Homo sapiens: one gene and its partners. The protein of the gene in region 3 interacts with the protein of the main gene of each other region in a biochemical or structural test. Each region holds a gene or a part of one and is shown on either strand. Other genes may lie near its edges.

The links.
Region 1: the proteins of NUP85 (region 3) and SEH1L form a complex in vitro, tested with the Homo sapiens proteins (one study listed by IntAct).
Region 2: the proteins of NUP85 (region 3) and NUP43 form a complex in vitro, tested with the Homo sapiens proteins (2 studies listed by BioGRID).
Region 4: the proteins of NUP85 (region 3) and CCR2 interact in a biophysical measurement, tested with the Homo sapiens proteins (one study listed by IntAct).

The regions. Positions count from the first base shown.
Region 1 is NC_000018.10:12,969,639-12,977,860, reverse strand, and holds part of SEH1L (nucleoporin SEH1), read right to left. Parts: intron 6,709-8,222; coding exon 6,610-6,708; intron 2,129-6,609; exon of another isoform or gene 1,979-2,128; intron 1-1,978. UniProt on the Homo sapiens protein: Component of the Nup107-160 subcomplex of the nuclear pore complex (NPC). The Nup107-160 subcomplex is required for the assembly of a functional NPC.
Region 2 is NC_000006.12:149,727,281-149,735,502, reverse strand, and holds part of NUP43 (nucleoporin Nup43), read left to right. Parts: intron 1-3,767; coding exon 3,768-3,890; intron 3,891-4,739; coding exon of another isoform or gene 4,740-4,870; exon of another isoform or gene 4,871-5,984; coding exon of another isoform or gene 5,985-6,013; exon of another isoform or gene 6,014-6,942; coding exon of another isoform or gene 6,943-6,983; exon of another isoform or gene 6,984-7,023; intron 7,024-7,024; coding exon of another isoform or gene 7,025-7,113; exon of another isoform or gene 7,114-8,222. UniProt on the Homo sapiens protein: Component of the Nup107-160 subcomplex of the nuclear pore complex (NPC). The Nup107-160 subcomplex is required for the assembly of a functional NPC.
Region 3 is NC_000017.11:75,229,538-75,232,968, forward strand, and holds part of NUP85 (nuclear pore complex protein Nup85), read left to right. Parts: intron 1-1,802; coding exon 1,803-1,886; intron 1,887-2,035; coding exon 2,036-2,101; intron 2,102-2,290; coding exon 2,291-2,442; intron 2,443-3,313; coding exon 3,314-3,431. UniProt on the Homo sapiens protein: Essential component of the nuclear pore complex (NPC) that seems to be required for NPC assembly and maintenance. As part of the NPC Nup107-160 subcomplex plays a role in RNA export and in tethering NUP96/Nup98 and NUP153 to the nucleus.
Region 4 is NC_000003.12:46,354,240-46,361,126, reverse strand, and holds the end of CCR2 (C-C chemokine receptor type 2), read right to left. Parts: intron 3,651-6,887; 5' UTR 3,600-3,650; coding exon 2,517-3,599; 3' UTR 1,451-2,516; coding exon of another isoform or gene 1,267-1,450; 3' UTR 187-1,266; downstream 1-186. UniProt on the Homo sapiens protein: Key functional receptor for CCL2 but can also bind CCL7, and CCL12. Also transduces signaling mediated by CCL13.

The DNA of each region.
Region 1 (8,222 bases), on a different chromosome or scaffold from region 3:
TAAGACTCAACTGCAAAAATAAAAAATAAAAAAGGGCTTGATTTATTAGCCACTAACATCTTTCTTAGGAAAAGAGTAACACATTGCCTAAGTATTTGAATGTAAATAAAAAAGTAAAGCTGGTAACAGGAATTGAGGTTTTTTTGAGACAGTTTCACTCTTGTGCTGGAGTGCAATGGCGCAATCTTGGCTCACTGAAACCTCCGCCTCCTGAGTTCAAGTGATTCTCGTGCTTCAGCCTCCTGAGTAGCTGGGATTACAAGCGTGCACCACTACGCCTGGCTAATTTTGTATTTTTAGTAGAGACAGGGTTTCACCATGTTGGTCAGGCTGGTCTTGAACTCCTGACCTCAGGTGATCCACCCGCCTCTGCCTCCCAAAGTGCTAGGATTACAGGTGTGAGCCACTGCGCCCAGCAGGAATTGAGTTAAGTGATAATAAAAGGAAACTATGCAAAGGCTATTTCATCCTTGCAATTCTATTTCTTTATCTATAAATACAGAATAAGAGGATAATGAAGGCAGTGGTAGATCAGAGTTTTCTACTAGGTTCTTCTAAGATTGAATATCCTGGACAGAACGGCAGCACCTAACCCCCTGCATGTAGGAGACTGGGTGGAGACATCTCCCCATCCCACCTTTCTACAGCATTCTTCACTTGACCTTCTTTTCATCCCAACATTCTTCCTAAAATCTCTACCAAGCTGGTACACACCTCAAGGTTCTCTCCTTGATCTTTCTCACCCATCCAATCACCCTAAGCAATCTCATCCACATCCTTGCTTCTACTGTGTGGTCTGCAGCAGCCTGGGAGCTTCTGGGAAATCCAGAATCTCAGCCCCCTCCTGGGGCCTACACAATCAGAATATGCTTTTTTTTTTTTTTTGAGACAGAGTCTGGCTCTGTCGCCCAGGCTGGAGTGCAGTGGTGTGATCTCGGCTCACTGCAAGCTCCGCCTCCCAGGTTCATGCCATTCTCCTGCCTCAGCCTCCGGAGTAGCTGGGACTACAGGGGCCTGCCACCACGCCCGGCCAATGTTTTTTGTTTTTTTTGTATTTTTTAGTAGAGACAGGGTTTCACCATGTTAGCCAGGATGGTCTCGATCTTCTGACCTCGTGATCTGCCCACCTCGGCCTCCCAAAGTGCTGGGATTCAGGCGTGAGCCACTGCGCCCGGCCAGAATATGCATGGTTTCTACACCCATGGTTTCAGTACCTATAAACCAATAATTCCTAAATCTATCCCCTGCAATTCAGGGGATAGATTCTGGCCTTCTACCAAAGGCCAGAAATAGGACAGGTGGAGCTAAGAGCACACATGCTGCAGCCAGAACGTGTTTGAATCCAGGCTGTAACGACCTTCAGCAAGTTCTCCGTAAAGTGGGAGGAACACCCGTACTGTGGCAGAGAGATTCTAAGTGCCCCCATGACCCGCACCTCCTGGTGGTCCCGCCCTTGTGGAGGCTCCTCCCCATGAGTGTGAGTGGGGCCCGTGGCTTGTTTTCTACCCAGGGGACGGAACATGGCAAGGTGGTGGGACAACACCCGTGTGACTACAACACACAAGCCTGTGACGCCTGCCTCATGAGAAGACTCTCCTGCTTTCAGGCCTTGCAGAAGCAGCTGCCATGCTGTGAGGACACAAGGGAGGGTCTCGTGGCAGGAACACGAGTGCTGCCAACAACCAGGTGAGCTCCGAAGTGGAGTCTTTCCCAGTCTGGCCTGACTCTTGACCCACAGACATTGAAATACCGAATCTGTACTGTTTCAGCCACTGAGTGATAATGCTGTCATGCAGCAATAGACAACTAATCTCAGCTATTCTATCCATCTGCCTTTACACATCCCCACCTGGATGTTCCAAACGCACCTCAAACATATGTCTGAAATAAATTGTGCTTACCACATTCACTCCTCTTTGCTCAGTCCCCATCTCAACAAGTGGCACTACCATCAGCTAGGTCAGAAACCAAGACTCACGTGACCTACAGCTGGTGCCTCCTAGACAAGTCTCCCCGGTCCCTCTTCATCCCACGCCACAGTGCATGTCCTCATTCCACATCATAGTGGGCTACTGCATTCATCCCTGAGTTCCTGCTCCCAGTCCACACAGCTGCCAAAGTCATCTCCCTAAAAGGTAAATACAACCTTGTGACTCTACTGGACCCTGCAAAAGTCCAAATGCTGCCAGGATAGAGATCAGACTTGGCAAGCACCACTCTCCAAAATCTGCCTGGCCTGTTGGCCTGCCCCTCCCCTGTCTCTCTCCTGCATTAGCCTCCCCACCCACCGCCTCGACCCCACGCCCTTGTCTTTGCTCCTGCCTCCTCTCTGCTTGCAGAACACCCTCTGTCTTTCAAGATTCATGCTCAAACATCATCAGCTGAAACTTCTCACCCTACCAGGCAGGTATGTGCTGCCATCTCTAGCAGGTGACCATCCTCATCCATATCCTAGGCGCTGTAAGCTCCTTCAGCTCTTAGTACAGTCCATGCTGCTTATGAAATGTTGAAAAAGTGAGATTTTTTTTTTCTTACCTGAGGCAAGCTATATATTGTAATTAATTAAGGTGGCTGGGCACGGTGGCTCACGCCTGTAATCCCAACACTTTGGGAGGCCGAAGCAGGCAGATCACCTGAGGTCGACAGTTCGAGACCAGCCTGACCAACATGGAGAAACCCCATCTCTACTAAAACTACAAAATTAGCTGGGTGTGGTGGCACATGCCTGTGATCCCAGCTACTTGGGAGGCTGAGGCAGGAGAACTTCTTGAACCCAGGGGGCGGAGGTTACGGTGAGCCGAGATCACACCATTGCACTCCAACCTGGGCAACAAGAGTGAAACTTCATCTCAAAAAAAAAAATAAAATAAAAATAAAAATAATTAAGGTTATCTAAAGCTTCTCCTATCAGAAGGAGCCAAATAAGATCCTCAATGAGAGTGTAAATAAAGAGAATGAACAAAAAAGACTTTGTTTCTGGTCCTGACTCTGGACCTTAGACTAGTCATTCACTCTGTTGGTCTCAGTTTTCTCATTTGTAAAACAGTGTTAATAAAAGCTGTCTCCTCTACTTACAAGGTGGTTGGTAGGATTCAAACTTCATAACACACATAAAAATGCCCGGTAACCTATATAAACACATGGCACTTCTATTATCACTATCAATCCTAGATCTGTTTTAGTATTTTCACTCACAAATAAAAACAAATATATCCAACACTGGTTAATTTGGCAAATGTCTCCTGTCTACTAAATGGTGATACTACTTAGAAAAAGATAAACAGGCCGGGCGTGGTGGCTCACACCTGTAATCCCAGCACTTTGGAAGGCTGAGGTGGGCGGATCACAAGATCAAGAGATGGAGACCATCCTGGCCAAAATGGTGAAACCCCATCTCTACTAAAAATACAAAAGTTAGCTGGGCATGGTGGCGGGTGCCTGTAGTCCCAGCTACCGGGGAGGCTGAGGCAGGAGAATCGCTTGAACCCGGGAGGCAAAGGTTGAAGCGAGCCAAGGTTGCGCCACTGCACTCTAGCCTGGAAACAGAGTGAGACTCCATCTCAAAGAAAAAAAAAGAGAGAAAAAGATAAACAGGTATTAATAACGATACTACATAGTCCACTATCACATCTCCTCCACGTTCAATCTAAATAAGAACCTTCAAACAATGCTTACCTCAAAGAACCAGCAACAGAACTCCAAAAAGTGCTGAACTTAATAGGTTTGATTACTTCCCAAGTCAATAGCACACACCCCCACCTGCAGACACTCTTTCCCCAACACCACTTCCCCTCGTTTTTGATGCTGAAAATGCCAGACACTTGCTGTCTCACTCTCTTGCAGCTAAGGCATGGCTGGATGACCAAACTCCAGCCGCCAGCACCTGATAAGAAGCCTGCTAAGATACTTCTAGGAAAGGTGTTTTTTTCTAGAATACCCTTCTTTGTATTAGCATGTAAAACCTGACATTGTGCAGCTCTTTTGTGATCATAAGAGGGAGCTATCACCAGTGTACTAAGCATGACAGCAAGAAAAAAGTGGAAAATATTTAGGTAGGTCCTTGATGTCATCATTGAGCAACTGAGTCACTACCTAACCCCAGAACTGCTCCACCCTCAGGCTCCTTGTCACATGACATAATACAGGGAATCCCCCAGTCTAGATTTATTCTGTTAGCTAAGAGACTAGACTCAAATGCAATCTCAGATTATTTTTAACATTGGATTATTTAGGTAATTTAGAAATACTTAGGTAATTTCTAGGCCGGCCGTGGTGGCTCACACCTGTAATCCCAGCACTTTGGGAGGCCGAGGTGGGTGGATCACCTGAGGTCAGGAGTTCAAGACAAGCCTGGCCAACATGGTGAAACCCCGTCTCTACTAAAAATACAAAAATTAGCCAGGCGTGGTGGCACGCACTTGTAATCCCAGCTATTCAGGAGGCTAAGGCAGGAGAATCACTTGAACTCGGGAGGTAGAGGTTGCAGTGAGCTGAGATTGCATCACTGCACTCCAGCTTGGGTGACAGAGTGAGACTCTCAAAAAAAAAAAAAATAGGTAATTTCTATTTGCCTGTATTTTCTTTCAGAACTAACTGCAAGTTATTTATCTTTTTACTCAAATCTTACTTATGAAATATTTTCTTTTCCTATGTTTTAGAAAAAAATCTTTTTTTGACACTGCTGGAGTGAAGTGGTGCAATTTTGATTTACCGCAGCCTCGACCTCCCAGGCTCAGGTGATCATCCCACCTCAGTCTCCCAAGTAGCTGGAACTACAGGCATGCGCCATCATCCCCACAGCTAATTTTTGTACTTTTTGTAGCGAAAGGGTTTCACCATGTTGTCCAGGCTGGTCTTGAATTCCTAGACTCAAGTGATCCACCCACCTCAGCCTCCCAAAGTGCTGAGATGGCAGGCATAAGTCACCTCGCGTGGCCAATGATACACCTTTTACGTTTTTGGGCTTATGTCTACATATTCATTCTGCTCAGCTCAGGTTGAAATTTACTTTAACAAGCCCAACACTTCATGAAGCCTCTATAAAATGTGCTATTAATAGGGCTCATAGTTTTTACAGCTTAAAACTCCATGAAAATCTCTAAGACCATTTCCCATCACTGCAGCACATTCTACTGGACAGCACTGTTGAAGACTGAGCCTCTCTGCAGACACCAACAATCTAGGAAGGTAGAAGGTGTAAGATCCCCTTGGTAACCCAGATGGTAACATTTGGAATTGCAGAGCCCACGGGAGTAACACTAGTTCCTTCTCTACTGCTGGCCCTGCCTAAGATCTGACTATTAGACTCAAGAATTTTGTCTAGTACCTGCGAAGCCCATCTGATCACCTGACAAGTGCTCTCTTCTCCTGTAAGACTGAGTAGTGTGCCTCTGAGACACTGCTTTTGGCTCTCAGAAGCTTTGCAGACACTTGTATCTCGGCATGACCAAAATTAACTTACCTTCACATGCTGCCACACTCTACCCAAATCTGCCTTGTTCCCAGAGTTCCTTATCTCAAGAAATTACACACATTGAAATTACACACTGAACTCTTAAGCCAGAACCTTGGAAATCATCTTAACACCTTCCCCCTTCTTCCTCAGTTCAGTTCTCAAATCCAATCAATCACCAGATCCTATTGATACCACTTCTCAATTATTCTCAAGTTGTCCACTTATCTCCATGCCACTGCTACTACTATCCCAAAGCCACGTACTCTCCCACCTGGACTGTCTTCATAGCATCCTAGCCGTGAATCCACCATGTTTCCCTCCAAAACACTTGTCACACCTATAGAAGATCCATCTGATCCCATTATTCCCTATTCACATCACCTGTAAGATAAAACTGAAACAATGGACATTACTTCTTATAGATACAAGTCTTGCCTATTTCTCTCCACACTCATTTTTGCCCAGCATGTTCCAACAACAGTATAAATATACTCCCTCTCTCTTGCTCACGGCCTTACCACATGCAGTTTTCTCCACCAGGAGTGCTTCTGCCCTCTTTGTCTGGCTAACTTCTACTCACCCTATAGGTCATCTTCTAGGTGAACCTTCCTAGCCCCTAAACCAGATTAGGTTCCCCAGGTATAAGCTCTTTAGCACCCTAATTCTTCCACTTCATAAGATTCATCACCCTTTTTTACTATTATTTTTTGTTTCACTGCAAGATGGTACATCATACTGGGAGATCAATTACCTTCTCCTCTTTTTTTTTTTGAGGCAGGGTTTCGCTCTTGTTGCCCAGCCTGGAGTGCAATAGCGCAATCTCAGCTCACTGCAACCTCCGCCTCCTGGGTTCAAGCGATTCTCCTGCCTCAGCCTCCCGAGTAGCTGGGATTACAGGCACCTGCCACCACACCCAGCTAATTTTTTGTACTTTTAGTAGAGACGGGGTTTCACCATATTGGCCAGGCTGGTCTACTTTCTCCTCTTTATCACTCATGCCTGTGCTATCACAGCCTAGCACAGAACTTGGTATATTATAGTAAATCAGCAAACATATGATGAATGACACATAATTCTGTAAATGAATAAAGAAATAACATTTTAAAAAATTAAATGCAATTCTGAACAATTATTAAAACCAAAGCAGGACTGACCTGGTGTTTTCATTATATTCAAAAATCTGAACCTTGGCCATTGCGTTGGGGCTACTGTCATCACTTCCTACGGCGATCATGGGGGAATGAGCACGAGAGCTAGAAACGGGGAGAAAGAACATTTTAGATAACAAAAGAAATACACATTTCATTCACAGAATGAACACACTGGAGGCAAGCAGACAACCAGCTTACAGTTAGCCTGTCACACTACTAGTGAATCTAGGTCTCTGCCACATAGCTGACATGGCCACACTGCAAGTATGCACCTGAGAATGTCACACATGGGAACTGAAGATTCCATCCTTATGAACTGTTTTTAGCATATTCTTATGGCTCAGATAGAAAGGAGCTCTTTGCCTGAAAAAAGCTTTCAAGCATTCAACATATTTTTAAAAGATACTTAAGAGGTCTTAGTAATTTTTCCTCCTGAAATTTTTGGTCATTAACTATGAAACAAAAAGTAACCCTACTGTGACTAACTTCATGACAAAAAGATCTTAAGTGCTTTGACAAAAAGAAGAAACACTGCGGCAGGGTGGCTCATGCCTGTAATCCCAGCATTTTGAGAGACTCAGGAGAGAGGATCATTTGAGGCCAGGAGTTCAAGAAGAACCTGGGCCACATAATAAGACTCTATCTCTACAAAAAAAAAATTTGTTTAATTAGCCTGGTGTGGTGGCATGTGCCGTTTGTCTCAGCTACTCAGGAGCTGAGGCAGGAGGATCACTTGCGCCCAGGAGTTGGAGGCTGCAGTGAGCTATGATCGTGCCACTGCACTCTAGCCTGGGCAACAGAGTGAGAGTCTCTTTCAGAAAAAAAGAAAAGAAGAAGAAAAAACAGATGGACAGGGGAAAAGTGGAAAAGACTACCCCTGCAGAAGTCACGATCCCCACGTCATTCCCCTCCCTAGACTCATCTGTGGTCAACCTCATTTTGAAAAAGGCAAAAGATGAGCAATGAAAGAATGGCTCTCCTGAACTATAAGCTGAATGACTTTTTAATTTCTATGCCTAATTAACATAATTTCCTTTGCCTCCCTCATCCAGATTAATTAATATCTCTGTAAACCTGGCACCCTTGCTTAACCTTTAGCCTCAGTATTGTGCACTACTAACCTCTTAAAGCTAAAAACAAAATGTGGTAACTGACAAAAAAAATTAGTTCTTTATTACTAAAGCTTCAGGTAATTAGATCAAATTATCTAATTAAGAAAAGTACCAGGCAAACTACAAAATGCTACAGTAATAAAATAAAATTATAAGTTATTTATAATAATTTTTGGCCATTCAAATAGATGTAAATTCCACAGCAATTTCTGTGTCTCACAAACTTCCTTTTGCGTTTTTTTCCTGTTTTTTTGAGACAGAGCCTTGCTCTGTCACCCAGGCTGGAGTGCAGTGGCGATCTCTGATCACTGCAACCTCCACCTCCTGGGTTCAAGTGATTCTCCTGTCTCAGTCTCCTGAGTAGCTGGGATTACAGGCGTGAACCACCACACCTGGCCACAAACTTCCTTTTTCAGTGTTCTACAAATACTTGGTTTTGATTTTTTTTTTTTTTTTGAGATGGAGTCTCACTCTGTCGCCAGGCTGGAGTGCAGTGGCATGATC
Region 2 (8,222 bases), on a different chromosome or scaffold from region 3:
CCAAAGTGCTGGGCATAGCCATTATGCCCATGCCCAGCCTTATGTACTTATTTTCTTAGGATAATTTTTTAGAAGTAGAATTGCTAGGCCAAACATTTTGCATAGCGCATTGACAGATTTTTCTACACAAAAATAATACCAGTTTAAGCCAGGCACATTGGCACATGCCTGTAGTTCCAGGCTCCTCCTACTCAGGAGCCTGAGGCAGGAAGATTGCTTGAGCCTGAGAGTTTGAGGCCAGCTTAGGCAACATAACCTCTTTAAAAAGTTAATAATACTAGTTTAATCCAGGTGAGTGGCATGCACCAGCTTCTCAGGAGGCCGAGGCAGGAGGATTGCTTGAGTCCAGGAATTCAAGGCTGTAGTGCATTATGATTGCACCTATGCACTCCAGCCTGGACAATATAGTGAGACCCCACTCCCTGAAAAGTGATAAAAATCATACCATTTTATATGCCATAGTGAAGTGTGCAAGAATGCCCTTTTCCCATGCAAATGCAGGCTGTCATATTTGTTAATAAATGTTGTGCTCCTCAATTTATTGTTGCATCACATCATTTTTTTTAACATGAACAATAGATTTATAAGCTTTTTTTTTTCTTTTGATTCTGGTGGAGATGATTTAGCCGGACAGAAATTTTTCATTTTCTCACTCTGTCTTTGATATCATGCCAGAATGGATTATCCTTTTTTTTTTTTTTTTTTGAGACAGAGTCTTGTTCTGTCGCCCAGGCTGGAGTGCAGTGGCACAATCGCGGTTCACTGAAACCTCTGCCTCCTGGGTTCAAGCCATTCTTCTGCCTCAGCCTCCCTAGTAGCTGGGACTAAAGGCATTTGCCACCATGCCTAGCTAATTTTTGTATTTTTAGTAGGAATGGGGTTTCACCATGTTGGCCAGGCTGGTCTCAAACTCCTGACCTCAGGTTATCTGCCTGCCTTGGCATCCCAAAGTGCTGGGATTACAGGTGTGAGCCACTGCGCCCGGCCCTATATATTTTTTTAAAAATGGGGTCTCTCTCACCCAGGTTGGAATGCAGTGGCATGATCACAGCCCACTGCAGCCTCAGCCTTGCCTCCCTGGCTCAATCAGTCCTCCCACCTCAGCCTCCCGAGTAGCTGAGGCTACAGGCACGCACCCCTACTACACCCGGCTAATTTTTTATTTTTTGTAGAGACAGGGTCTCAATATGTTGCCCAGGCTGGAGTGCAGTGGCATGGTACCTCACTTAAGCCTCAACCTCCTGGGGTCAAGTGATCCTCTTGCCTTGCCCTTCTGAGTAGCTGGGACTACAGGTATATGCCACTACACCTAGCTAATTTTTTTTATTATTAGATTTCTATAGAAATTATGATTCCATAAAAGATTTTGAGGAAATGATGGCCGGGGGCGGTGGCTTATGCTTGTAATCCCAGCACTTTGGGAGGCCGAGGCAGGTGGATCACCTGAGGTCAGGAGTTCGAGACCAGCCTGACCAACATGGAGAAAGCCCGTCGCTACTAAAAATACAAAATTAGCCGGGCGTGGTGGCACATGCCTGTAATCCCAGCTACTAGGGAGGCAGAGGCAGGACAGTCACTTGAACCTGGGAGGCAGAGGTTGTGGTGAGCCAAGATCGCACCATTGCACTCCAGCCTGGGCAACAAGAGTGAAACTCCGTCTCAAAAAAAAAACAAAACAAAACAGATTTTGAGGAAATGAGGAAGACTGGTATCTTTCAGAATTGAAAGTGATTTTGGAATATATAGAATTTCTTTGGGGCTGGGCACGGTAGTTCATGCCTGTAATTTTAGCACTTTGGGAGTCCAAGGCAAACAGATCTCTTGAGCCCAGTTGTTTGAGACCAGCCTGGGCAACATGGAGAAACCCCATGTCTGTTAAAAATACAAAAGTTAGCCAGGTATGGTGATACATACCTGTAGTCCTAGCTACTCAGGAGGCTGAGATAGGCGGATTGCTTAAGCCTTGGAGGTCAAGGCTGCAGTGAGCCATGACCATGCCATTCTGCACTCCAGCCTGGGCGCCAGAGCAAGACCCTGTTTCAAAAAGAGAGAGAGAATTTCTTTGAGTTGAATTATGTAGAAGTTTGTCACTGACCTATGTTCCTAAAGTATGAAGCATACATATGTGGGCTAAGAAATAGTTTTTCTTGATAAATAATCAACAAATAAAAAATAAAAAGCCCTCCATCTGAGACTGGATCCAAATTCTTGGAACATTTCCAAATTTTGGTTTGGTAGAAGTCAGTTGCTATTTCTGTGATAAAGACCAGAAGTATTCAGAATCTTGGCATTAACCAATATTGGATATTGCCTCTTAGAAATTCATTTTTATATTTCATTAGGATCTTTCTCAGTTTTTCCAATAATATAATCTTCATATATTAATGACACAGGAATTGAAAAATAAGACAACTTACCAATTTAAAAAAAAACTTTTCCGTAAAAGACAGTCATTCCTAGCTGGGCACACACCTATAATTCCAGCACTTTTGGGAGGCTGAGGCAGGAGGATTGCTTGACGCCAGGAGTAGAAGACCAAGGTAGACAACATAGCAAAACCCTGTCTCTATTTAAAAAAATAAAAATAAAATAAAATAAGCTTTTTCATAAAGTAATAGGGTTAAATGTTTTAGCAATGATTTTCTTTTCTTTTTTTTGAGACGTAGTTTTGCTCTTTTTGCCCAGGCTGGAGTGCAGTGATGCAATCTCAGCTCACTGCAACCTTGCCTCCCGGGTTCAAGCAATTCTCCTACCTCACCCTCCCAAGTAGCTGGGATTACAGGCACCTGCCACCACGCCGGGCTAATTTTTTGTATTTTTGGTAGAGATGGGGTTTCACCATGTTGGTTAGCTGGTCTTGAACTCCAGATCTCAGGTGATCCACTCACCTCGGCCTCCCAAAGTGGTAGGATTACAGGCATGAGCCACTGCGCCTGGACATTTTTTTTTTTCCTTGAGACAGAGTCTCACTCTTGTTGCCCAGACTGGAGTGCAATGGTGTGATGTTGGCTCATTGCAACCTCTGCCTCCCGGGTTCAAGCGATTCTCCTGCCTCAGCCTCCTGAGTAGCTGGGATTATAGGCACCCACCACCATGCCTGGCTAATTTTTAGTATTTTTAGTAGAGACGGAGTTTCACCACGTTGGCCAGGCTGGTCTTGAACTCCTGACCTCAAGTGATCCACCCACCTTGGCCTCCCAAAGTGTTAGGATTACAAGCATGAGCCACTGTGCCTGGCTACTATTTTCATTTATTTCCTTGCCCAGTACGCAAATTTAGTTGGCTTCTTTTTCCTTTCTTTTCTTTTTTTTTTTTTTTTCTCAGACAGTGTCTCACTTTGTCGCCCAGGCTGGAGTGCAGTGGTGCGAGCTCGGCTCACTGCAACCTCCGCCTCCCAGGTTCAAGTGATTTTCCTGTCTCAGCCTCCTAAGTAGCTGGGACTACAAGCACGCGCCACCACGCCTGGCTAACTTTTGTATTTTTAGTAGAGATGGTGTTTCACCATGTTGCCCAGGCTGGTCCTGACCTCAGGTGATCCACCCGCCTTAGCCTCCTAAAGTGTTCTTTTTCCTTTCTATGTGTTATAGCCATTGGAAAGTTACATTATGTCTTTTCTTTAATTCTGAAGCCTTTAATTTTTAGGACAGACTTGAGGCTCGAAGGTATGTGATGGAGGATAATGGAAGATGATGCCTAGAGATGGGGGTTTAATGTTGTTTGTTCAGCGAATCTGCACAGGAATGAGCTTATTGATTCTTGTCTCTTAGTGTGGGAAGTTCACTTTCACCCATCCAACCCAGAACATCTTTTTACCTGCTCTGAAGATGGATCCCTCTGGCACTGGGATGCTTCCACAGATGTACCTGAAAAGTCGTCACTCTTTCACCAAGGTAAAACTTTTTAATGAATACTGTTATGTGTACTTTTTTTTTTTTTTTTTAAGACAGAGTCTCACTCTATCACCCAGGCTGGAATGCAGTGGCACGATCTCAGCTCACTGCAACCTCCGCCTCCTGGGTTCAAGCGATTCTCGTGCCTCAGCCTCCCGAGTAGCCAGGACTACTAGTCATGCACCACCGTGCCCGGCTAATTTTTTTGTATTTTTAGTGGAGATGGGGTTTCACCATGTTGGCCAGGCTGGTCTCGAACTCCTGACCTCAAATGATCCGCCTGCCTCAGCCTCCCAAAGTGCTGAGATTACAGGAGTGAGCCACCACACCTGGCCTTTTTTTTGAGACAGAGTCTTACTCAGTCACCCAGAATGGAGTGTAGTGGTGCAGTCTCAGCTCACTGCAACCTCTGCCTCTCAGGTTCAAGCTTTTCTTGTGCCTTAGCTTCCCTAGTAGCTGGGATTACAGGTGTGTGCCACCACAACTGGCTAATTTTTTTGTATTTTTAGTAGAGATGGGGTTTTGCTATGTTGGCCAGGCTGGTCTCAAACTCCTGGCCTCAAGTGATCTGACCACCTCAGCCTCCCCAAAGTGCTGGGATTACAGGCATGAGCCACTGTGCCCAGCCTGTTATGTGTAATTTTATCATACTTTTATTTTGTTTTTTTTTTGTTTGAGACAGCGTCTCACTCTGACATGCAGGCTGGACTGCAGTGGCATGATCACAGCTCGCTACATCCTCGCCCTCCTGGGCTTAAGTGGTCCTCCTGCCCCAGCCTCCCAAATAGCTAAGACCAGAGATGCTTGCAACCACAACCAGCTAATTTTTTTTTTTTAATTTTTTTGTAGAGATGAGCTCTCACTATGCTGCCCAGGCTGCTCTCAAACTCCTGAGCTCAAGCAATCTTCCTGCCTGGGCCTCCCGAGGTATTGCAATTATAAGCATGAGCTGGCTGTACCCAGCCATTTTATACTTTTAAATACCAAATTAGACATCCTCGTATTTTTTACTTAATGGCAAAACATTTTTATTCTCTTGCCTCAGAGTAAATTTGAGTATCACAGGGCTTGAAATCTGACTGTCAAGTTACTTACTACTGTATGGCTGATGGCTAGAAATGCTGTAAGCTGGCTCACTTGAGACAGCCAAGGTTCTCCTTTGTGAGTGCCATTAACCTGGACCCTCATGCCATAGCATAGACAGTGGCAAATCTTTCATATTGCATTGCCAAGTTTGTGTGAATGGCAAGAAAAAAGTTGATATTTGATGTAACTGAGGGTACTGGTTAAATGGCCTGATCTCAGGCCGGGTGTGGTGGCTCATGCCTGTAATCCCAGCACTTTGGGAGGCCAAGGCAGGTGGATCACCTGAGTTTGGGAGTTCGAGACCAGCCTGACCAACATGGAGAAACCCCGTCTCTACTAAAAATACAAAATTAGCCGGGTGTGGTGGCTCATGCCTGTAATCCTAGCTATTCAGGAGGCTGAGGCAGGAGAATTGCTTTTACCCAGGAGACAGAGGTTTCAGCGAGCCGAGATTGCACCATTGCACTCCAGCCTGGATAGCAAAAGCGAAACTCCGTCTCAAAAAAAAAAAAAAAGGGCGTGCTTTCCTCATTACAGTCAGTTGTAGGTTATGGTCAGCCAAAGACCATGCACTTGTAATCGGGGTTTATGTGTTTTTGCATTTTCCAAGTTTCCTGTTTTTGAGGGTTTGTCTGTGGCTCCAAAGTTCTTTTGCTTATTCATTTATTCAGAAATATTTACTGAATGCCTACCATGTGGTAGGCATTCTTCTAGGTGTTAGGACGTGTAACAGTGAGCAGAACGAAATGTCGAAACGCATAGAGCAAATATTCTAATAGTTAAAAAAATAGATAATGTATCAGTAAGAGTCCAATTAGAATGTCAGAAACTACCTTAGATGTAGAAGGAATTGGTCTCACATGTGTTAGAAGGGCTGGGAAAACAAAAGGTAATAGGAGGGGTGCTGGGAGAACAAATAGGAAGAAAAGGGAAAACCCAGAAATAGTAATTGTTAGTACCCCTGCTACTTGACTGTTGAAAATGCTGTAAAAGTTTGTTCTGAATTAGGAGAAAAGGCGCTCCCTCAACCAGGCTGAAACTACCACCAGTGTTGTTGCCAGAAACCTGGAGCAGGAAGGAGCTGCTTCTCCCTTCCGCCTTCCAGTCACCCACCATTAATACCTGCTATTGGCAAGGCCCATCTGGATGGCAGATGGCAAAGCAGCCTGGAAAGTGGAGTTTACCAACTTCTACCTCCTACAGTATATAGTGGAGCACAGCAAAGTGGAAAAGGAGGCCGGGCGCGGTGGCTCACACCTGTAATCCCAGCAATTTGGGAGGCCGAGGTGGGCAGATGACCTGAGGCCAGGAGTTCAAGACCAGCCTGGTCCAACATGGTGAAACCCTGTGTCTACTAAAAATACAAAAATTAGCTGAACGTGGTGGTGGGTGCCTGTAATCCCAGCTACTCTGGAGGCTGAGGCAGGAGAATTGCTTGAACCCGGGAGTTGGAGGTTGCAGTGAGCCAAGGTCACGCCACTGCACTCCAGCCTGGGCAACAGAGCAAGACTCCATCTCAAAAAAAAAGAAAAAGGAAAATAACATGGCCAAATACACTGCTAATTACCATGAAGAAGAATACAGCAGAGTAGGAGGATAAAGAATAAAGACAGGGGTGAGGGGAGCTACTCTAGTGAGAGTCAGAAGAGGCCACTTGGCAGAAGGAACATTTGAGCAGAGACTTAAGAGAAGTGAAGGCATAAGTGACATGAAAGCATTCCAGGCAGAGGAAACAGCAAATGCTGAGGGCCTGAGACAGGCAGAGAACTGCAAGGACACCACGGTTGGAGCTCAGGCAGCAGGGTACAGTGGTGGGAGATAAGGACTGGTGGCTGAGGAGCCCTGGGACTTTGTAGCCCATGATAAGGACTTTAGACTTATGGGAGGGGGAGGAGAAAAGTGGAAAACAGGGAGATGAGGAAGGAGTCTTATCACAGTGGCTTGAATAATGTGTTAATCTTTACAGCGTCCAAGAGCAATGTAAAATGTAGGGGCAGTAAAAGATAAACAGAAAAACTAAGGGGAAAAAAATTCTAAAACTTCTTCAGAAAAATTCTGGAGCGGAGAGCATGTGTGGAGCATGCATGCATGTCCATGCTATAACTTCATCTACAGAGAAACAAACAGTTTCATCTAAGGATTAACTAAGTATGTACTTCGTTTTTACTTCCTTCCTCCCCTAACCGCACAGTCTTGAACTTGCAAGTTTACTTTTAAGGAACCTTGGTTAGACTGGAAATAAAACTTTATTCTGTGTCTACTATTGCAAGGCACAGTATTAGACACTGTGAAAAAGTAAAACATATAAAATATGCATCCTGCTCTTAAGACATATTTAGTCATGGACAGAGGCATGGATAGTTCAATTAGGATATAAGAATTGTTATAAAGTAGTAAATTAATGGTACATACAAGTGCTGAGGGTTCAAGGAAAGAGAAAAACATGAAGTAGAGGTTGTCTTCAAAGTTTTCTTAGAGAAGGAAGTTCAGCCATATTTTAAAGGATCAGCAAGATTTTAAATGTACTAATCTTTAAGCTTCAAGACATAGGGACTTGGCACAGAGCACTTAGCACAGAGCCTGGCACATAGTAGGTACTCAGTCATTTGTTGAGTGAATTAAATTTGTACTTATTTGATATGACAGCAAGTTGAGAGGAAAGTAAGTTGCGAATAATGACTAAAATTGAAATATACTGCCTCTGCCTCACTTTATTCTATAGTAAGTACAGTGCGCTGTTAGAGATAAAACCTTATAATCTAGTAGTGTTCTAATCTGCTTGTAAGAACATTTATCTAAAAAGCATAAGAATGAAAGATTTGAGGTAAGGCGATTATATTTTAAGAAATATAGTAACAAATATATATTTAGAAATATATTTCTAGAAATGTTCATCTAGAAATATGTCTAGAAATTCTTTCTCATGATCATTTTATTTTGTTATTACCCAAGAGTTTATATTTCCATGTATTACCTACATTTTTGGTTTCTTTTTTTTCTTTCCTTATTCAACTTGTATGCTGGCCGTTTTGCTACCTTTCTGAGACTTTCCATTAAAAGATGAACAGAAAGTCAGTTGAAATCACCTGCTTTTCCTGAAGACTTCGAGTTTGGTATCCATATTATCCCATGGAAATTTGAATATTTAATATCACTGAATAAGCCTTTGGTCCAAAGTGGTGATGTATAATAATGGAATTATTAGCCTATTATTCTGAGAATTAAACACATTGATATCATCACCTT
Region 3 (3,431 bases):
CGGCTGCTCACTCAGAATCCTTCAGAGTGAGAGAGAGACAGAGTGAGAGTGGGAGTGTGTGCGTGTGTGATCTAAGACCTAACTGTGTGGTTCAGGCCTGCTGGGCCCTGTAGAGAGACCGTGGTGGCTTTGTGCAGCACTATGTCTGGTCTCCGTCACTTGAGTTGTGTTGTTAGTTCTCTGCTCTCAGTGCTTGCTGCCTTCCAGCCTTGGAGGCTGCTGGATCCTTTGGGAAGACACCGGGCACTGTCTCAGCCCTTCCTTCCAGTTGTTGGTGGCTTTCGTGCAGGCTAAGGCTTTGGCTCCCTTAGCCTGGGTCCCCTATAGCCTTTTCACTGGCTTCTCCAATGGTTTCGACATAACCATCAGCTAGAAATCTGGGTAGCAACAGCTGTTTTGGGAAGCTGAGGTGTCCTTTCCCCTGGCCCAGCCCACTCCCTCCCATTTTTTTCCCCAGCTTTATTGAGGTGTGATTAACAAAGTAGTATGTATTTAAGGTGTACAAAATTTTTTTTTTTTTTTTGGAGACAGAGTCTTGCCCTGTCACTCAGGCTGGAGTGCAGTGGCACGATCTCAGCTCACTGCAGCCTCTGCCTCCTGGGCTCAAGCGATCTTCTGCCTCAGCCTTCCGAGTAGCTGGGACCACAGGCACACGCCACCACGCCCAGCTAACTTTTGTATTTTTGGTGGAGATGGGGTTTTGCCATTTTGGCCAGGCTGGTCTTGAACTCCTGAGCTCAAGTGATCCACCCGCCTCGGCCTTTCAGTGTTGGGATTACAGGAATGAGCCACTGCACCCGGCCAAGGTGTACAACATGTTTTTTGTTTTTTTTTTTTTTTGAGATGGAGTCTCACTTTGTCGCCCAGGCCGGAGTACAATGGCGCGATCTCGTCTCACTGCAAGCCCCGCCTCCTAGGTTCACGCCATTCTCCTGCCTCAGCCTCCAGAGTAGCTGGGACTACAGGTGTCCGCCACAACATCCGGCTAATTTTTTGTACTTTTTGTAGAGATGGGGTTTCACCGTGTTAGCGAAGATGGTCTTGATTTCCTGACCTCATGATCCTCCCACCTCGGCCTCCCAAAGTGCTGGGATTACAGGTGTGAGCTACCGCGCCCGGCCAACAACATGTTTTGATAGATGTATACATTGTGAAATTAAGCTAGTGACATCTGTCACCTCACATAGTGACCCTTTTGGTGTGCGTGTGGTGAGAACATTCAAAAGCTACTTTCTAGCTGGGTGTGGTAGCGCATGCCTGTAATCTCAGCTACTGAAGAGGCTGAGGCATGAGAATTGCTTGAACCTGGGAGGCAGAGGTTGCAGTGAGTCGAGATCTCACCAGTGCACTCCCGTCTGGGTGACAGAGCAAGACTCCACCTCAACTACTTTCTGAGCGATTTTTTTTTTTTTGAGATATGGTTGTGCTCTCTCACCCAAGTTGGAGTGCGGTGGCGTGATCTCGGCCGATTGCAGCCTCTGCTTCCCAGGCTCAAGCAATACTCCCACCCCAGCTTCTCGAGTAGCTGGGATTACAGGTGTGTGCCACCATGCCTGGCTAATTTTTGTATTTGTAGAGATGGGGTTTTGCCATGTTGCCCAGGCTGGTCTTAAATTCCTGGACTCAGGTGATCTGCCTGCCTTGGCCTCCCAAAGTACTGGGATCACGGGCATGAGCTATCATCACGCCCGGCCCCATCTCTTTGAGGGACAGGACATGTGGGGTTTCTTGCTCACCCCCACTCTTGTGGGACGCGGCCTGTGCCCTGATTTTCCTTCTTGCCTTGGTGTCTGAATCTGCAGCATCGCCCTGAGCAACTGGTGGTTTGTGGCCCACCTGACAGACCTGCTGGACCACTGCAAGCTCCTCCAGTCACACAACCTCTAGTAAGTGGCCGGGAGGCACCGATCCTCCTCTTCTTACCACCAGGCCCCCGAGGGTGGTGTGAACTGAATGCCTGAAAGGGAGGTTGGGCTAAGGGGGCCCTGAACAGGGCAGGCCAGGAGTCTTGGTCTTTTGTTATGTTTTATTCCAGTTTCGGTTCCAACATGAGAGAGTTCCTCCTGCTGGAGTACGCCTCGGGACTGTTTGCTCATCCCAGGTAGGAAGGACCCCATGGGTGTGGGCTATGCGGGTGCTCTTCAGCATGCGGGTGCCATTGGAGCTTGGACTGTTCTCTCCCAGTTGGCTCCTTGAAGGCTTCGGAAGGGTCAGTGAAAGGGAGCTGTAGGTGCCAGTCCTCGGAGCCATGAGGCAGCACCTCATGTCTGTCCTCCTCGAACCTTTGCAGCCTGTGGCAGCTGGGGGTCGATTACTTTGATTACTGCCCCGAGCTGGGCCGAGTCTCCCTGGAGCTGCACATTGAGCGGATACCTCTGAACACCGAGCAGAAAGCCCTGAAGGTGCTGCGGATCTGTGAGCAGCGGCAGATGACTGAACAAGGTGAGCTGGCCCTGCTCCCAGCCTACTGTCTGTGGGACGCAGGAGTCAGGGGATCCTGAGGTCACACTTTATGCCTACCCCAGCCATCCTCCTCCTCACGAGCCACACTGGAGACGTGGGGCTGTGGACGCCAAGAGGTAAACTAAGAGATGGGATAATTACTTGGGAGGGACAGGAAAGCTAGGGATCCACTGGAACCCAGACAAAATCTACACGCCATCTGGAAAGGCCTGAGCCGCCCCTTTTCTCACACACTTGATTCCACGAGGTCAGGGCTGGGGTTGGCGCTGTTTCCCTGTCCAGGTGGGTTGCTATTGCTAGCTCAGCCTGGCTCAATGGGGAAGCAGTGCTGGAGGTGGCTCCAGAAAAGCAGAGAGAGTGGAATGAGGATGACCAAGTCTGCCCCTTCATTTCTCCCCTCACTGTTGAGTAATGTAAACATGAGTTATTACCCTGCAGAGAGGCAGTTGCATGTTCACGACCATTTCTGAAAGCATATGGTATTCACGATCCACAGGAAGATGTGATTTGAGGCATCTGGAGAGGTAATAGAAGAGCTGACACGTAGGGAGAAACACGTAGGGAGAAAAAAAATAGAAGAGCTGACATGTAGGGAGCAACGTTTTGCTCCCCTTGAAGCCACACACACTCATAGAGCCAGTCTTGCCGTGATGGGCACTTACACTCTTAGCAGATCCCAGACACTGTTAATCAGCCGAGTTTCCAGCTCTGCCGATCCAGCTGCATTTAGAGCCCAAAGAGTGGCTCTGCGGTGGAGTGAGGCTGTGAGGCCACTCCGGTCCCCACAGGGCTCAGGAATGGAGTGATTTGTGGAGTGAAAGCCGTTTACCTTTTCTTTTCCCCTGCAAAGTTCGCAGCATTTGTAAGATCTTAGCCATGAAAGCCGTCCGCAACAATCGCCTGGGTTCTGCCCTCTCTTGGAGCATCCGTGCTAAGGATGCCGCCTTTGCCACGCTCGTGTCAGACAG
Region 4 (6,887 bases), on a different chromosome or scaffold from region 3:
AGGCAGATGTCACTTCTGCTCACATTCCAGCAGCAGAGCCAGTGGTGGAGGGCGTGGGGTGTGTGGCCTGTAGGGCGCACTGCAAGTCACACCACAAGGGCAGGTGTGTGTAATCACACAGGGGAAGAAGTGAAAAGTTGTGAACACAACACAATCTTCCACACCACAGTGTAAAAAAACAGCCAGTTGTTTTTAAATCTTTTATCAACATAGTTATAGCATTGATTTATTTTCCAAATCATAGTTGTTAAAAACAGTATTTACATTTCATCACCATCAACTTAACATTTTATGCATTCATTAGGATCATACAAATATATGAAGGTGAAAGTTCTGCTCTGTCCCCACTTCTTTCTGAAACCTTCTTTAGCCATGTGGCCTGAAAGTAGAGCCATAGTCCAGCTTGGGAGTCTAGTTCCCAAGTTGCCTGGTTCTAGAAGCCCAGTGTTTCTTGCTTGCATCAGATCAGAAACACACTGGGCAACATAAGAACATTCTTAACTTGGCTCGACTAAGAGGAAAGTCTTTGCTTACTTCAGGGAGCTTCTCCACCTTCCATTCTTTACCAATAGGGTTTAAAAGCTTTGATTAGAAGCCAACTTGATTTAGGAGTTCCCACTGGCAAAATAGGGAACAATATGAGCATCAAGGACATCTGCGAAGCACTGAAACACTCGAATGTGATTAAACGCATGACTTCATAATGATACAAAACAAAACACAAAAGGCTTTTGGCAGCAAGCCTGAGAGAATGGAGATCCAGCTGAGATGACAGCGATGGAGCGTATACTGTGATTCAAACGACATCATTACTTAGATGCTGCATGCACATAGGCTAATGTGCCCACAGATCACACACTTCCAACTCCTGCCAATCAACAACTATTGGGTTGACTCAGCAGTCTCCCAAACATACCACCTGCTCAAAATTCTTAAGCTCAAAGCTAGAATTATCTCTGTGACTAATACAGCATTTTCACGTTTGACATGATAGTAACTCAAACTAACTCTTTACCACATTTACAAGTTGCAGTTTTCAGCTTTAATTTTATTTTTACTATTTAAAAAAAGTCTGAACTCTATGCCTGTATTCAAAAATGAGGAACTGGAAGGTAGTTTGGAAAATACTGTTTTCCAACCCAGCTGGAGTCTCTCTCCTCTCAGCCTTCCTGCCTGGTAACGTAGACACCAAGATTCACACTGTGAATCACACATCTGTGAAGCCAGACGTGTGATTTCCAAAGCAGAGATCTGTCATTTCTGTCTCTAGGCTCCTTCTTTGTCCTGAAGACTGGCTTCAGGGGCTCTGCCAATTGACTTTCCTTTTCCACGACCATCGAGGAGTCCTTGTGTAGTCACTTTCACATTCTTTCCTGGTCTCACTCCTGGACCTCCACACACTGGTTTTTGGAGTGGGGCAATCCTACAGCCAAGAGCTATGTGAAAAAGGCTGTGGGGAAAAGAGAAGAGTGAGGGGAGTGGCAAGGCAGGGAAAAGCAAGCACAAAACAAACCAGCTCAGATCCAGACAAGAAGCTTTACTGGGTTCTGATGCAGCCTTCCTGGCTCTCTCCACTTAGTTGATTTCGGAAATAGTTCTGCAGTGGTTCCACACGATCCCCGTCCTTTGCTCCTGGTGAAGGAACTCATCATTCTCCACCCCCTTCTCATAATCACTACCTCCTGGAGAGATCAAGCAAGAGCCTATATATATTGCATATACATATATTAGCATATCATAGATAATGCATCTTTTATAAACAAAAATTTTCTGAATTTTTAGACAGGGGGATGTGGCCTAAGAAGCATCTGAACAATGGAGCATGATATTTCATAGATTTCAAATGTAAGGTGCATGGGTGCCATAGATAAACTGTAATAAAGCAAAAATATGTCATGCACTTATGCAAAAGAGAATCATCGGACTCCACCAAAACTCCCAGGTTATTGCAGTTCCCAAACTCTCCCTGACCTGGTGAACCCTTCAAGGTTAAATACACGTGGCAGATGGGGCTAAGGACCAGTATCATCTCCTGGCTGAATGCGTGAGCCCTTTGCTCACCTTTGTCTTTGTCCAGGCTCAGCCATGCTCATGTCTCCCTCCTTCTCCTCTCAGCCCTGACCCCACTATCCCTCACTCCCATTCATCTGTGCCTGTCACATTCTCTTCTTCACCTCCAGCTGGCCCTTGATTTCAAGACATTGACAGAATCAGAGATTGAGTGAAGAAATTATGAAGACTAGAAAAAGAGGATTAGCACAAGGTAATGAGGCATTTTTCAGGAGCTGAGATGAGCTTTCTGGAGAGTCAAAGTCTCTACCCACAGTTTTTCTGGATTATTCCCTGAGCACATGTTGGATATGCATTGGGTGACATAGTCTGTATTAGTACACACAGCCCTGAGGTTCCTGGGCACCTGCTTTACAGGTTTCTATTGTTCAACAAACCCTTGAAGTTTGTTGTTATATACAGATTGTTATCTCCCTTTATAAACAACAATCAAACTGCTCCTCGTTTTATAAACCAGCCGAGACTTCCTGCTCCCCAGTGGAAGGCGTGTTTGTTGAAGTCACTCCATCCACTGTCTCCCTGTAGAAAACTGGACATTGTTTGCAGAAGCGCTTGGTGATGTGCTTTCGGAAGAACACCGAGAGATACCTTCTGAACTTCTCCCCAACGAAGGCATAGATGATGGGATTGATGCAGCAGTGAGTCATCCCAAGAGTCTCTGTCACCTGCGTGGCTTGGTCCAGTTGACTGGTGCTTTCACAGTTACTCAGGCCGAAGAATTCCTGGAAGGTGTTCAGGAGAATGACAATATTATAGGGAGTCCAGAAGAGAAAGTAAACAATCATGATGGTGAAGATGACTCTCACTGCCCTATGCCTCTTCTTCTCGTTTCGACACCGAAGCAGGGTTTTCAGGATTCCCGAGTAGCAGATGACCATGATGAGCAGCGGCAGGACCAGCCCCAAAATGTTCCTCATTATTGTGTGGAAATTATTCCATCCTCGTGGAAAATAAGGGCCACAGACATAAACAGAATCTTCTTTCTGGCATTTAGTAAAGATGATTCCTGGGACAGAAGCAAACACAGCCACCAACCAGGTGATCACACTTGTCACCACCCCAAAGGTGACCGTCCTGGCTTTTAAAGCAAACACAGCATGGACAATAGCCAGGTATCTATCGATTGTCAGGAGGATGATGAAGAAGATTCCGCCAAAATAACCGATGTGATACAGCCCTGTGAATAATTTGCACATTGCATTCCCAAAGACCCACTCATTTGCAGCAGAGTGAGCCCACAATGGGAGAGTAATAAGAAAAAGCAGATCAGAGATGGCCAGGTTGAGCAGGTAAATGTCAGTCAAGCACTTCAGCTTTTTGCAGTTTATTAAGATGAGGACGACCAGCATGTTGCCCACAAAACCAAAGATGAACACCAGCGAGTAGAGCGGAGGCAGGAGTTGGGCCCCAATTTGCTTCACGTCAAATTTATGACAGGGAGCACCGTAATCATAATCAAAAAAGGTGGTGACTTCTTCACCGCTCTCGTTGGTATTTCTGATAAACCGAGAACGAGATGTGGACAGCATGTTGTGGATGTACTGGGGAAATGCGTCCTTGTTCAATCCACTTTCTCTGTTCTGTAAACAAAGAACAAAATGATGACCACACAACACAAACACCGCAATCCATGATCTTCCAAATAGTCTGGCACCACATAAGCAACTTCCCAGTCTTTGCCCTCTCCCTTGCAGCCATCTCCCTGAAAGCATGTGTGCCAGTTCCTGATTTGCCTTTCATTCCTAGTGGCAGACATCAATGATTTACCCAACAGCCATTTTCCGACACCCTTTATCTTCCCCAGCAAACCAGATTCTCATTTTCAGGCTAAAAGCGCTGGGCGTTTGTTTTCTCTGGCTCCTTTGCAGGTGGTGCATAGGTCTGTGACTCATTGCTGGACCATAATATGAAAAGGGAGTCTGCTGGGGGCTTCTGAGAAAGCTCTTCTTCCCTGATAAGACAGACACAAGAGAACCCTCCACCTGCCCCTCCTGCTCTGGCAGCATGCCTAGTGAGGGCATGGTGCCATGAATGGAAGACCTAGAGAACCATGAGAAGCCAGGCAGAATCCTATTATCACTGAGTCCTAAACCCACCCTTGAACTATTCACCTTCTGCCTTCTTTTTTTTTTTTTTTTGGAGACGGAGTCTCGCTGTGTCTCCAGGCTATAGTGCAGTGGCCATGATCTCAGCTCACTGCAACCTCCACCTCCTGGGTTCAAGTGATTCTCCTGCCTCAGCCTCCTGAGTAGATGGGACTATAGGCGTGCACCACCATGCCCCGCTAATTTTTGTATTTTTAGTAGAGATGGGGATTCACCATGTTGGCCAGGATGGTCTCGGTCTCTTGACCTCCTGATGCACCCGCCTTGGCCTCTCAAATTGCTGGGAGAAAAACAAGCCCCTGTTTTAAAGCCATTATGAACTGCATTTTCTGTTCTCTGAAGTCAAAAACGTTCTAACTGATGATTCTCTCAGCTTTCTGCCTCCATCATCCTGCCAAAACTTCTCTTGTTAAGATTGCAGTGACAACCCAATTTTTCAAATGCCCTGGTTTTATTCCAATTCCACCCTCTTCAAGTATTTGATCCTTCTGCTAACTTCCTCCATTTACAATTCTTTTTGGCTTCCAGATGGGAGGGGCTGTGCTACCGCTTTTTATTCATGTTCTTTGCTGGCATCTCCTCCCCGTGCCCACACCTTAAGATTCCCCAGGCACCACACTTAGCTCTCACCTCTTTAATTTTTTGCCTCTTTATCCTTGCTACAAAGTTCTTCCTGAATTGTATTGTCTAAACTCATGGTTCCTACTCCCTTCTATGCTACTGTTTTCTAAAGCTCTGTCTTCAAGCTCCAGCTTTCCCCTAAGCCTTAGAGTTGAATTTCCCATTGCCTGATGCATATCTCCCCATGCATGTATTCACTGCATCAACACTTATTGAACACCTACTATGAACCATACTCAGTTTTAGGCACTGAAGTGAGCAAAGTGGGTATCATGCAGGGACCTCAAATTCAACCCACCCCAAATGGGGCACTGCTGAAAACTCCTTCCGATTGTGGATTCCTCCATTGCCTAAGAAGCAAAATTGGGCATTGCCCTGGGTTGCTTCTCCTTCTGAAAATTAGGAGCCAGTTTTTGGAGCCAAACAAACCTGGATTTGAATCCTTATAGGCAGTGTAATCTGGGGCCAATTACTCCTTCAAGTGCCGATTTCTTTATGCATAAAATATTAACTATGCTGAGTTGCTGTGAAGATCAATGGAGTAAGGACTTAGGACAGCATCTGACACAGAGAAATGCCCTGTATTATTATCATGTCATTTGAGTTCCACCTCATAGATGCCTCTCAGATTCATCCCCTCTGCACTGCTTTCAACTGTCACTTTCTTGCTTCACACACTCCTCACTCCTGGCTTTGTTGTAGTCTTTCCTTTGCTCATGGCTCATCTCAAGCCATGTTCCCTCTCAACCTATCTTCTCTTAAGTTGAAATTGAATAGTCACTCTTAGCTTAAAACCTCCAGTAGCCCTATGACTTATATGTGGTGGGCTTCAAAGATAATGTCCAGACTGCCCAGCACAACATCTTTTCTGAGTTTGCCTCTTTTCAGCCTCACCTCCAGTCCCTTCTCCAATCCCAAATCCTGTGCTTCAGTCACAGCCATCTTCTCTTCATTTTCCCTAAACTCACCATTTCCTTCATGCTTCAGTGGTTTTGCAGGTCCTTGCCCCTCTGCCCAAAATGATTGGTGAGCTTCTATTCACCCTTCAATACCTCCTGCTCAAATCCCCCTTCTCTGTGAAGCCTAATCTGTATCCTCTGTCATATTACTCTTATCACATAACACTGCATGCATCTAGATAAGCACTTATTATGTTATCTGCTACACACAGCATGTTCCTCAAGATCAAGGACTGGATTATGCTTCTATTTTCAGCTCTTATGATAGTACCTGGCTAAAGGAGGCACCAATAAATGTTCACTGAATGAGTACATAAAACTCTTTATAATAAGAACTATAAGCCCTAACATCATCAGGACTTGATTCTCAAGAATTTTTTTTCTGGCAGTGACTGTGAATTTCTTTTCCACCCACCTGTATACTTTATCCTTCCATTTCTCTTGCAATTGACACTTTTCACAAGTCTTGTATTTCATATCACTGAGCCAGATTCTTGAAATCTGGAGAAGCTAAATAAGACCTCTGATCAAAGTTGGAAAAAAATGCATCTGCCTAAAGAATCACAACTGTGGTCATTAATTGAGTGCTCCTGAAGCTCAGATGCTATGTTAAATGCTGTGCACACATTACTTAATTTCATTTTTACAACTGGCTAGCATGTAGCTTCTACTACAGTGAACAATGAGCAAGATGCCTGAAATGTGCTGTCCTAGGTGTCATTTCAAGTGTCAGAACATGTCACCCAGAACTGATAGAAATCTATCTTTCAGAAAATAAATTCCTTACTTCTGCCTCTGTGGATCTCCTGAGTTGAGGCAAGGGACACATTTTGGTTCAGAGCTTGGATGGTCCTATATTTAGACTAACAGTTCCAGCTCTTTAACGTCCTTGGGTGCTCAGAGGGGCAGAGTGAGCCCCTGGGTGTGTGGACTGGTGACTGAGCAGAGTGGCTGTCCTGGCCTCGCTTGCTGCCCACTCTCCCCCATCACCTGCTGCACGCTGCTCTTCCTCAGGGTTTCTCTAACATCTCCTGGTGCACATGCCATCCCCACCCCTGCCTCTCATCTTGATCATTCCCCCCAAGTGTGCAGGCTTTGCAGTTCCCCAGGGTGTACCCAGACCCGGCATTTC